Linked DNA regions of Homo sapiens: region 2 is linked to region 1. The links come from fine-mapping of genetic effects on gene expression. A gene starts in region 1. The other region holds a variant in brackets. All regions are shown on one strand. Distances are from middle to middle.

The links. PIP is the estimated chance that this variant, and not a neighbour inherited with it, causes the effect.
Region 2: its variant is fine-mapped to the expression of ONECUT3 in testis (GTEx, PIP above 0.99).

Annotation. Positions count from the first base shown.
Region 1 is chr19:1,751,580-1,755,953 of GRCh38, reverse strand. ONECUT3 (one cut homeobox 3) reads right to left here and starts at 2,448. Exons shown (of 2, transcript NM_001080488.2): 1 at 1,100-2,448. The coding sequence starts at 2,291.
Region 2 is chr19:1,778,657-1,783,030 of GRCh38, reverse strand. ONECUT3 (one cut homeobox 3) reads right to left here. Exons shown (of 2, transcript NM_001080488.2): 2 at 2,043-4,374. It overlaps ATP8B3 (ATPase phospholipid transporting 8B3), which reads left to right. Exons shown (of 29, transcript NM_138813.4): 29 at 1-956. The coding sequence ends at 3. Among named protein-coding and RNA genes, the nearest start is that of ONECUT3, 27 kb to the right of the region's middle. The variant A/G (reference allele first, on the strand shown) is at 1,947.

The DNA of each region.
Region 1 (4,374 bases):
AGCCCCCTCCCCAGCACCACCAGGGAAAGAAACCCCCACCTAGGCCAGGGGCCCTCCTGCACCCTTACACCCCCACCTAGGAAATGGGGGCCTGGCCGGGCTGCCTGTCAGAGGGCAGGTGTGGACTTAGCTGTTGTCAGCTGGGAGGGAGGAGGGAGGAGGGTCCCCAGGGGGCCGGTGGCTGAGTATGAGACAGAGACAGAGGCGGAGAGACCGACAGGGAGAAGAGATAATGAGCAGGAACAAGAGCAAAACGGAGAGCAAGAGAAAAACATAGAGATACCAGTGTGTTCCGACCGAGAGAGGAGAGAAGTGGACATGAGAGACACAAAACCCCAAAGCCAGGCGGGCAGGGGCGCGCGCACCCGAGCCACGACCAAACTGCGCGGGGCGGGCGCCGGGTCGGGGTGTGAAGGCCTCCGGGCGGCGCGGGCCGAGGGTCCCCGGGGCCGCCCCTCCCCCGCCATTCTCGGGTGACCTTTGCCAGCGGCCGGAGGGGAGAGGGAGGGGGTATCGATCGCGGGGCCGAACTACAAAGAAGCGCGCGCTGGGGCAGGTGGGGGGATGAGCGCGGGCTCGGCCTCTGCTGCTGAGCTGCAGGCGCCCGCCGCAACGTCTCGGAGCTCTGTGGCCCGGGGCTGGGGGCTCAACAGCCCCTCTCCACCCACTCTGGAGGAGGGGAGTGGCACCTTAGCCGACAACAGCAGCTCGTTCGGGGACACAGCTCCCCCCAACAGGCGCGCGCTCACACACACACACGCACACACACAATGAGCTTCCCTGAGGGCTGCTTGGGGAGAGGCTCGGAGCCTCCCAGCAGTCTAACAAGGACTAGAGAACCCCTACGCGCTCCCGAAAGGGGCAGAAGCGGCGACCGGGGGGCGGGGAGGCGGCACAATCCCTTTCTCCCTTTTGGCAACGGTACAAACGGGCAGCGGCGCGGATCGCGGTCTAGCTTCCTGATAGGGGGTCCCGGGCTGCCGGGGCGCACGGGCGGGGCTTGGGGCGCTGGCCCCGGGCATCGGCCGCCGCCCCGCTAGGTGCTCGGGAGTCCAGAGCCGGCGCCCCCAGGGTCTGGCCCTGCGCGCCACGCTCCTACCTGCCAAGCGCAGCGCCGACATGCGCTGGAACTCTGGCTCCTGCAGCCACTTCCACATCCTGCGGAAGGTCTCGCGGCCGGATTTGAGCTTGCTCCACGGCTTGGGGTTGCGCAGCAGGTCGGAGAGCGTGCCCTGAGAGCGACACAGGATCCGCTGCGCGAAGATTGCCTGCGGGATGCTGTAGCGCTTCAGCTCCGCCGTGATGCGCTGCGCCACCTCCTTGGTGTTGATCTCCTCGGCCGCTGCGCCCGCGCTGGGGCCGCCGCCGCTCCCGCCGGGGCCGCCGCCTCCCCCGTGCGGCCCGTGCGCCCCGGCCGCCGCCAGCCCGCCCAGCGGCGCCAGCAGCCCCGCGGCGCTCCCGCTGCCCGCTCCGCCGCTGCCTGTGCCGCCGCCGCCTCCGGGCAGCCCGCGGGCCAGTGCGTCCTCCGCGCGTCCCAGCAGCGCGGCGTGCGGCTCGAAGGCGGCGGGCGGCAGCAGCTTGTCCCCAGCCAGGTGGCCTGGCGGGCCGTAGGCGGCCAGCGGCGGGGGTGGTGGCGGCGGCGGGGGCTGCGGGGCGCCGTGCAGCGCGGGCGGCAGCGCGTTGGGCAGCGGCGACAGCGGCGACCCCATGGCGGGCAGCTCCTTGCCGTAGGGTCCGTAGAGGTGGCCCACGGAGGCGAGCGCCGCCCGCTCGTCGCGCATGAGGGTGAAGCTGCCGCTCACGCTGGCCGCCAGACGCTGCGGCGGGGGTGGCGGGGGCGGCGCGGCCGCCGGGTGCGGGTGCGCGTGGGGATGGCCGCCGTGCGCCCCGGCCACGGCCGCGGCCGCCGCGTGCTGGTGGAACTTGTCGGCCACGGCCGCGAGCGGCGGCAGGTGCTGCAGGGGCGTGAGCGTCGTGTAGGTGCCGCCCAGGCCCGGCGCCTCGCAGGCCATGCCCATTGCCGGGTGCAGCGGGCCCGCCAGTTCCCCGCGGAAGTCCGCGCCGCCGCCCGCGCTGCCCGCGCCGCCCGCGCCCCCGGCGCCCCCACCGCCGCCGCCGCCGCCGCCGTCCAGCAGGCTCGCCATGCCGGCCACCAGGCCCGGGCGCCCGGGCGCCACCAGGCCGCGGTGCTGCGCCGCCGCCGAGCGCGCGTGGCCCGGGCTCAGCAGCTCGCCCGCCTGCGCGTGGGCCACGCTGTGCAGGCCCCCCAGGCTCTCCAGGCTCAGCTCCATGCTCGGCTGCCCTCCCGCCGCGCGCGCTCCTCAGCGCCGGCCCCTAGTGCTCAAGGCCGCTGCATGACTCCCGCCCGCTCCCCGGTGGCTGCGCGCGAGGCTGCCAGGCTGCGCGGCGCACGGCCCGGCCCGGCTGCGAGCGCGGCCACCAGGATGTGGCAGGGGAGCGGCCGCCGGCGCCCGGGCCCGGGTCTGACGTCAGCGCCCCCGCCCACCCGCTCCTGCCACCGCTGCCTCCCGCAGCCTCGCTCTCCGCCCGCCCCGGCCCCACTCGAGCACCAAGCAGGCCGAAGTCGGCCAGACTTGGGGCTTCGGCGTCCCTGGCCACTGCGCCCGCCCGCGCCCGCTGGGGCAGGCCGTACCCGGGGGACAGCGGGCGGGGGTCCGAGGACAGACTCTGCCCAGGTGGGGCTGGGGGCCTCGACCCAGAGTCTCCGATTTCGCGTCTCTGTGTGATTCTCTCCAGAGTCCCAGATGTGGCTTTCTGCCTGGCACCCCCAAGTCCATCTCCAGGGAGTTTCTGGGAGTGTGGCTGGACGGTCGCCTGTAATGTACGTGTCCCCCCCCCCCCCCGTTCCCTACAGACCCCCAGGAGCTAGATCCCCACTGCAAGCTCAGCTTCCCCCGACTCCCACTCACACCTACGGAGTCACAGCCCCCTTCCCACAACCTCTTTGTGGAGGAAGTGGGGGAAAAGGGAGGTCCTAAGGCTAGGTCAGGGCCTCCGTGCGCCCCAGGGGTCAGCCTCTGCCCATGTGTGGGCACCTGGGCCTCCGTTTCCCCAACTGTACAATGGGCTGCCCGGCCTCGGGGTTGCCAAAGGCCCCTTCTAATTGCAGGGCCTTTTTACAGTGCGGCCGCTGGAGGCACTGGAGCCTGGGGGTGACCACTAAGAGCCCCTGTCACCCTCCAGCCCACGGAGGCTGAGGCTGGATCCCCTGTCTTCTGAGACGTCGCTGGTGCAAACTCCTCTTTGTCCCTGGGGCTTCTCTTCAATGTGGGGGGAGGCAGGGGTCTCCTTTTTCTCAGCACCTGGAGACAGGTGAGCCCCAGGGGCCCCTGGGAACTGGGATAGATGGGGGAAGGGCTCCTATAATCAGAGAGACCCCCAGGGGACTAGATCCCGCCAGTGGGGTAAGGTCAGGGCTGCGGATCTGGAGGGGCCAGACCAGAATCTAGAGGATGCTCTGTCTTGTAGGCCAGAGGCTACGGTGCAGAGTCCAAAACCAGCCTCAGCCCCTTCCTGCTTCCCCGTTGCCTCTGCCCCCCCCACCCCCGGGGTAACGCTTGTGCACTTTCTAGAAGAGGAAGGGGATGGGTCAGGCAGTCGGTTCGCGGGAGCCCCCAGTTACCCCCATCTCAGAGGGTTGCATCAGGGCTCAAAGCTGAAGGAAGAGGGGAGGACACAGTCAGGCTGTCACTTCCCCTTTGGTGCAAACCTTCTGGGCAAACCCCGGCCCCAGCTTTGCACCTGCATCCAGATTTCCTGGCCCCTGTAGACGTGGCTACACATTGGAGATGCGATTTTCTGAACCAAGACTAGGTTGGCTCTGGAATAGGGCCCTTTCTGTGCCTCAGTTTCCCCTTCTCTGGTGTGGGAGGGGGTGCCCTCCAGCCTGCCCAGCTGGGAGCCGGAGGTGAGTCTATGCTGACCACAACAGCCAGAGAGAGAGGGGGCCTGAATGATCTGGGCCCCCAGCCTGAGGTGGCCTGATCCAAGTCCTGGGGAGGGATAGGGCTGAAGGGGACCCCTGTTAGTACTCGCTGCTTAGGGCTCGGCATTTAGTAAGTGCCTGTTATTTACCAGGCATACTCTCCTCTCTCAGCCCCAGAGAGGGGGAAGTCAAATCACAATTTTTCCGGGTGTCTCTGGCCCAAGGTGGGGGGGTGGTGGCCCTAGAGTTCCCCCCTTCATTCCTACATCTGCCCAAGTGCTAACTCCTGCCCCCTGAAGTGTCGGTCCCTAAACTTTCCAGTTCCAGGGTTCAGGTATAATTTCTGGAGTTTACATAATTACACCCATCTTCCAGGTGGGAAGAGAGGGGCAGGTCCGAACAGTCGCGTACCCCACTCCCCGTGCAGA
Region 2 (4,374 bases), 27 kb before region 1:
TGACACCTCAGGAAGATGTCCTTCCTGGGGAAGAAGAAGCACCAGCCACAGGGGCAGGTGTCCTCCCAGGAAGTACAGCTCCCCCCTACACCTAGCTCATCATTTTCTATGGATAGACAATCCGCTCTTCATCCAGAAAACCAACCTGCCCTCCCCAAATATGTGCTCACCAGCAGCAACAGGCTATCTGAGTCTTTCCAAGAGCAATTGCCAAGGGCACAGGAGAGGTCATTGTCACCCAAGCAGAGGCCACCTTCTCCTGAGAAGTTGCTGTTGACCAAGGAGAGGTCACATTCTTTTCAGGAGAAATCACTGTTGCACAGAGAAAGCCAGCTGTCGTCATTTGAGAGCCAGCCACAGCCTCTGGGGAGCCAGTCATTTCTTTCAGGCCAGCTGACGTTGGAGAGCCAGCCAGACTCCTCGGAGGAGAAGTCAGCATTTTTGAAGCCCTCCACACCGTTCCGGAAGAGCTGGCAAAAGGAGCCTCACACCCCCAAGGAGGGGACGGTGCCACTTCCAGACAAGACCCACAAATCTCAGGTGGAGACTCTGCCACCAAGTCTGGAAGAATCGTCCACGTCCACGAGCGAGCAGCCTATGGAGGTGGAGCTGTGGCCCGCGGAGAAGCAGTCATCATCATCCATGGAGTGGCTGCTGGTGCCCGGGGAGGAGCAGCTATCCTTGCCCCCAGAGGAGCAGTCATTGCCCTCTGCGGAGGGGACCAGGGTTCAGCAGTGACGTAGCATCTGAATCCCTAGACCCATCTGATGAAGAGGCATCTTCGAGCCCAAAGGAGTCACGCTGGCATATCAGGAAGATGTCCTTCCTGGGAAGAAGAAGCTCCAGCCAGTTCTGCTGCAAGTCAACCAGCATGCAGGGGGCCTTCCTCTAAAGACAAGGACTCCACATGCTTTTCTTTTTCTAATAAACCAGGGTCCATCTGACCCCAGCGCTAATTCAGGCTCCCTCTTTCCCTACACTTTTTTTGTGATGGAATATTCCTTCCCGGTTTTTAAAATCAAAACACTGACCTCTAGTGGTCCAGCCGGGTATTTGCAGGGAAAACTTTCCTTCTTCATGCTGGGGTAAGATAATGTGGGTAAAGCTTCATTGCTCTCAAAAGTTGCTTATTAAAAGCTGTGGCTCCCCCGCTGCCTGACAGCTGGCCCCTCCCAAGAAAGTTTATAAATTCCAGTTCTTGTACCATCTAGCTTCTTCCTCTATCGGGAAGCCCTGGTTTCTCCCATTCAAATACACCTTCATTCACTGGGGCCTCCGTTCACTTTAGACTCCAGAAAGCAATGAGCAGTGATGTCACAGAAGCAGGTCCTGACAAGGTGTGCATCTTGGGGCTTGGTTGACTCAAAGGCGCCAAGCTTTTCCTTCTAAGGCGCCAAGCTTTTCTTTCTGATTCTTTTTTTTTTTTTTTTTTTGAGACGGAGTCTCACTCTGTCGCCCAGGCTGGAGTGCAGTGGCGCGATCTCGGCTCACTGCAAGCTCCACCTTCCGGGTTCACAGCATTCTCCTGCCTCAGCCTCCTGAGTAGCTGGGAATACAGGCGCCCACCACCATGCCTGGCTAATTTTTTGTATTTTTTAGTAGAGACGGGGTTTCACCGTGTTAGCCAGGATGGTCTTGATCTCCTGACCTCGTGATCCGCCTGCCTTGGCCTCCCAAAGTGCTGGGATTACAGGTGTGAGCCACCGCGCCTGGCCTCTTTCTGATTCTTACCATTCCCTGTGGGTGGTGGACTTGTGTGGGTGGTGGAGTTGTGTGGATTGTGGAGGCTCAGAGCTGGCCACTGGCCCAGGAAGAAGACGGGACTCAGAGCAGAGAGGGGCGAGCTGGGTGGAAGCAAAGTCCGTCTTCCCTGCACTCCGGTCCTCCCTCCCCAGCCTCGAGGTGGGCGAGTTCCATTCCCGCCCCCTATCTGTGCCCGACCCGTC[A/G]GCTAACACACACGCCCAGGTGAGTGACTAGAAAATAATTTATTGAAGAAAAACAAATCAACAAACCCAGCACAGCAATGGTTAACAATGACGAGATTTTTTTTTTTTTTTAGCTTTTAAGCCTGTCGCCCAAGGGTGAAGGTGGAAAAGGGCTTCTCTCCCCTGTCCCTGGAGGGGAGGGGACTTTGGAGGGTCCAAGTGGTGTCTCCCCTGAAAGCAGCCCTCAGTTCCAGTCTATTCAAAACACTCAAGGCCGCAGGGCCTCCTGGCTCTTCCGTCACCCCCGGCTGAGCTCATTCCACCAAAACCAGCCCCTGCGTGGTCTGACAGGGCCACGAGGAGGAGCCCCAGGAGTCTACTGGCCTGATTTTGCTTAAACCGCTTGGGGCAGAGAATGTGAAATGGCCCAAGCTCCTGCTGGTGCAAGGAGCATCCTGGCCCCGGCATCATTTCAGATTTGAGGTCAGCTGAGCCCTCAGCCCCAGGCCCAGCCCTCCAGACCAGGGCTTGCTGCTTTATGGGGTGAGAAGCACCCCGTTTAGCTACCCCGCCCCCCCCTACTGGGGCCTGTCCCAAAAGCGGCCCCTCTCATCTCTCCCCTGCCGCCCTCTCCTCCAGCCTCTGTTCCCAAGCTGGCACATCTGTGCCCCTTTCCACCTCCAGGGACTATCTGGGGATGGCTCAGGGACGTGGCCTCATGGCACAAGAGGAGTCAGAGGCAGAGGACATTGTCCCAGAGCCCCCTTTGATGATTTTGGGGAGTCCTCTGTTCTGTAGGCTCCGAAAGTGGGCTGGGAGGGAGGGGTCTCTGCAGGCGTACACCCCCTGCCTCCCGGGCTGGACAGAAAGGCGGACTCATGCCCAGCCCAGGGAGGGAGGCCGAGGCTGTCTGGGTGGAGGTGGGGGGGGAGGGGGTGCTGGTGCCTGCTGTTGGGGCCCTCAGGAGGGTCCTTCAGATCTCAGGAAGTTGGGGCACACTCCCGTCCCCCACCACCCTGGGCAACAAGACAAGAATAGGCTGATTGTCTGTCTCCTCTGAACAAGACACTTGGGAATTCATGCTAGAGTGAAAGCAACCGGGTGATGGGGGGTTGGGGGGGTCTAAGATATCGATGACACCAGAGTGCCCCCAAGAACCAGGAACTGAGGGGGGGACGCTCGGTGGCTCCCGCCTGGCTGGGGCAGGCAGGTGGCATCTCGGGTGGAGATGGACAGGCAGGTGGAGGAGACCCGGCTACTGAGGCTCTGTTCCCGCCCCCTCTACCTGGGGCCCCGTCCACCTGTCCCGGCTGGACACAGTTCCTTAGAAAGGAGGAAAGAAACAGTAACGAAAAACCACTGAACAGCACCGATCAGGCACCAGACACACAGATGCGACACGGAACCGGGCCACGCCCCCCGCCCCCCACCCTGACCACTTTATTACAATTAGCGTCAAGAAAGAGTACATTAGTCATGCACCAACTCAAATTCCATTTTGTCTTTTTTTTTTGCATTTTTCTTCCTTTTTTTTTCTTAAATTACATTTGAACACAGAACACAGAGAATAATAAATACTCTTATAAGACATGACTCCAGAAAACAAGAAACAGAACAAGCCAGAGAACAGAAAGGTATACCTCTGCCTCTCTCTCTCCCTCTCCCTCTCTCTCCCTCTCTCTCTCTCTTGCGCTCGCTCTCTCTCTCTCTTCCTTTCTTTCCTAAAGGACTCATTTAAATAAGAAATCTGTAAACGCCACTGGTCCTTTCTGCCGCAGTCTCTCTCGCGATCACGCTCCCTCTAACTTTCCCTCTGGTCTCCAGCCCTGACATTCAATGCGTCTCCCACGGAACTCGTCAAAGAAACGACATGCCATCGTCTGCAAAATTATAATTTAACGGTATAAAGCTTCAAGTCACGTATTCCAAAAACTAGCTAAGGATTTTTTTTTAATCACATAAACTATACATTAAATATTTTGAGGTATTTCAGAGAAAATTGTCAAAGGCTCGAAGGAATTGTGCTGGAGGTGTTGATCCCTGCATGGAGAACGCATGCTCTTTGGTATGTGACAGCCAAGTGGGCATGCGGGGAGGCAGGAGAGGGCCTGAGGGGCCGGCGGGCAGGTCGGGGATAGAGCCTTCTGTGGGGGTCTGGCCAAGTTTGGGGTGGGGTCCGGAAACAGGTAGGGGTGTGTGTGTGTGTGTGTGTGTGTGTGTGTGTGTGTGTGTGTGTGTGATACGAAGATATCTGAAAAGGATCCAGGAGTCCTGGGCCACTTTATTTATTTTTTTTTGTAGAAGTGGGGTCTTGCTGTGTTGCCCAGGCTGGTCTCAAACTCCTGGCCTCAAGCGATCCTCCTGTCTCGGCCTCCCAAAGTGCTGCTGGGCCACTTCTGTGACCAAGAGGCTTGACCTGATCTGACCACAGTTCAGCATAGCTAAAACA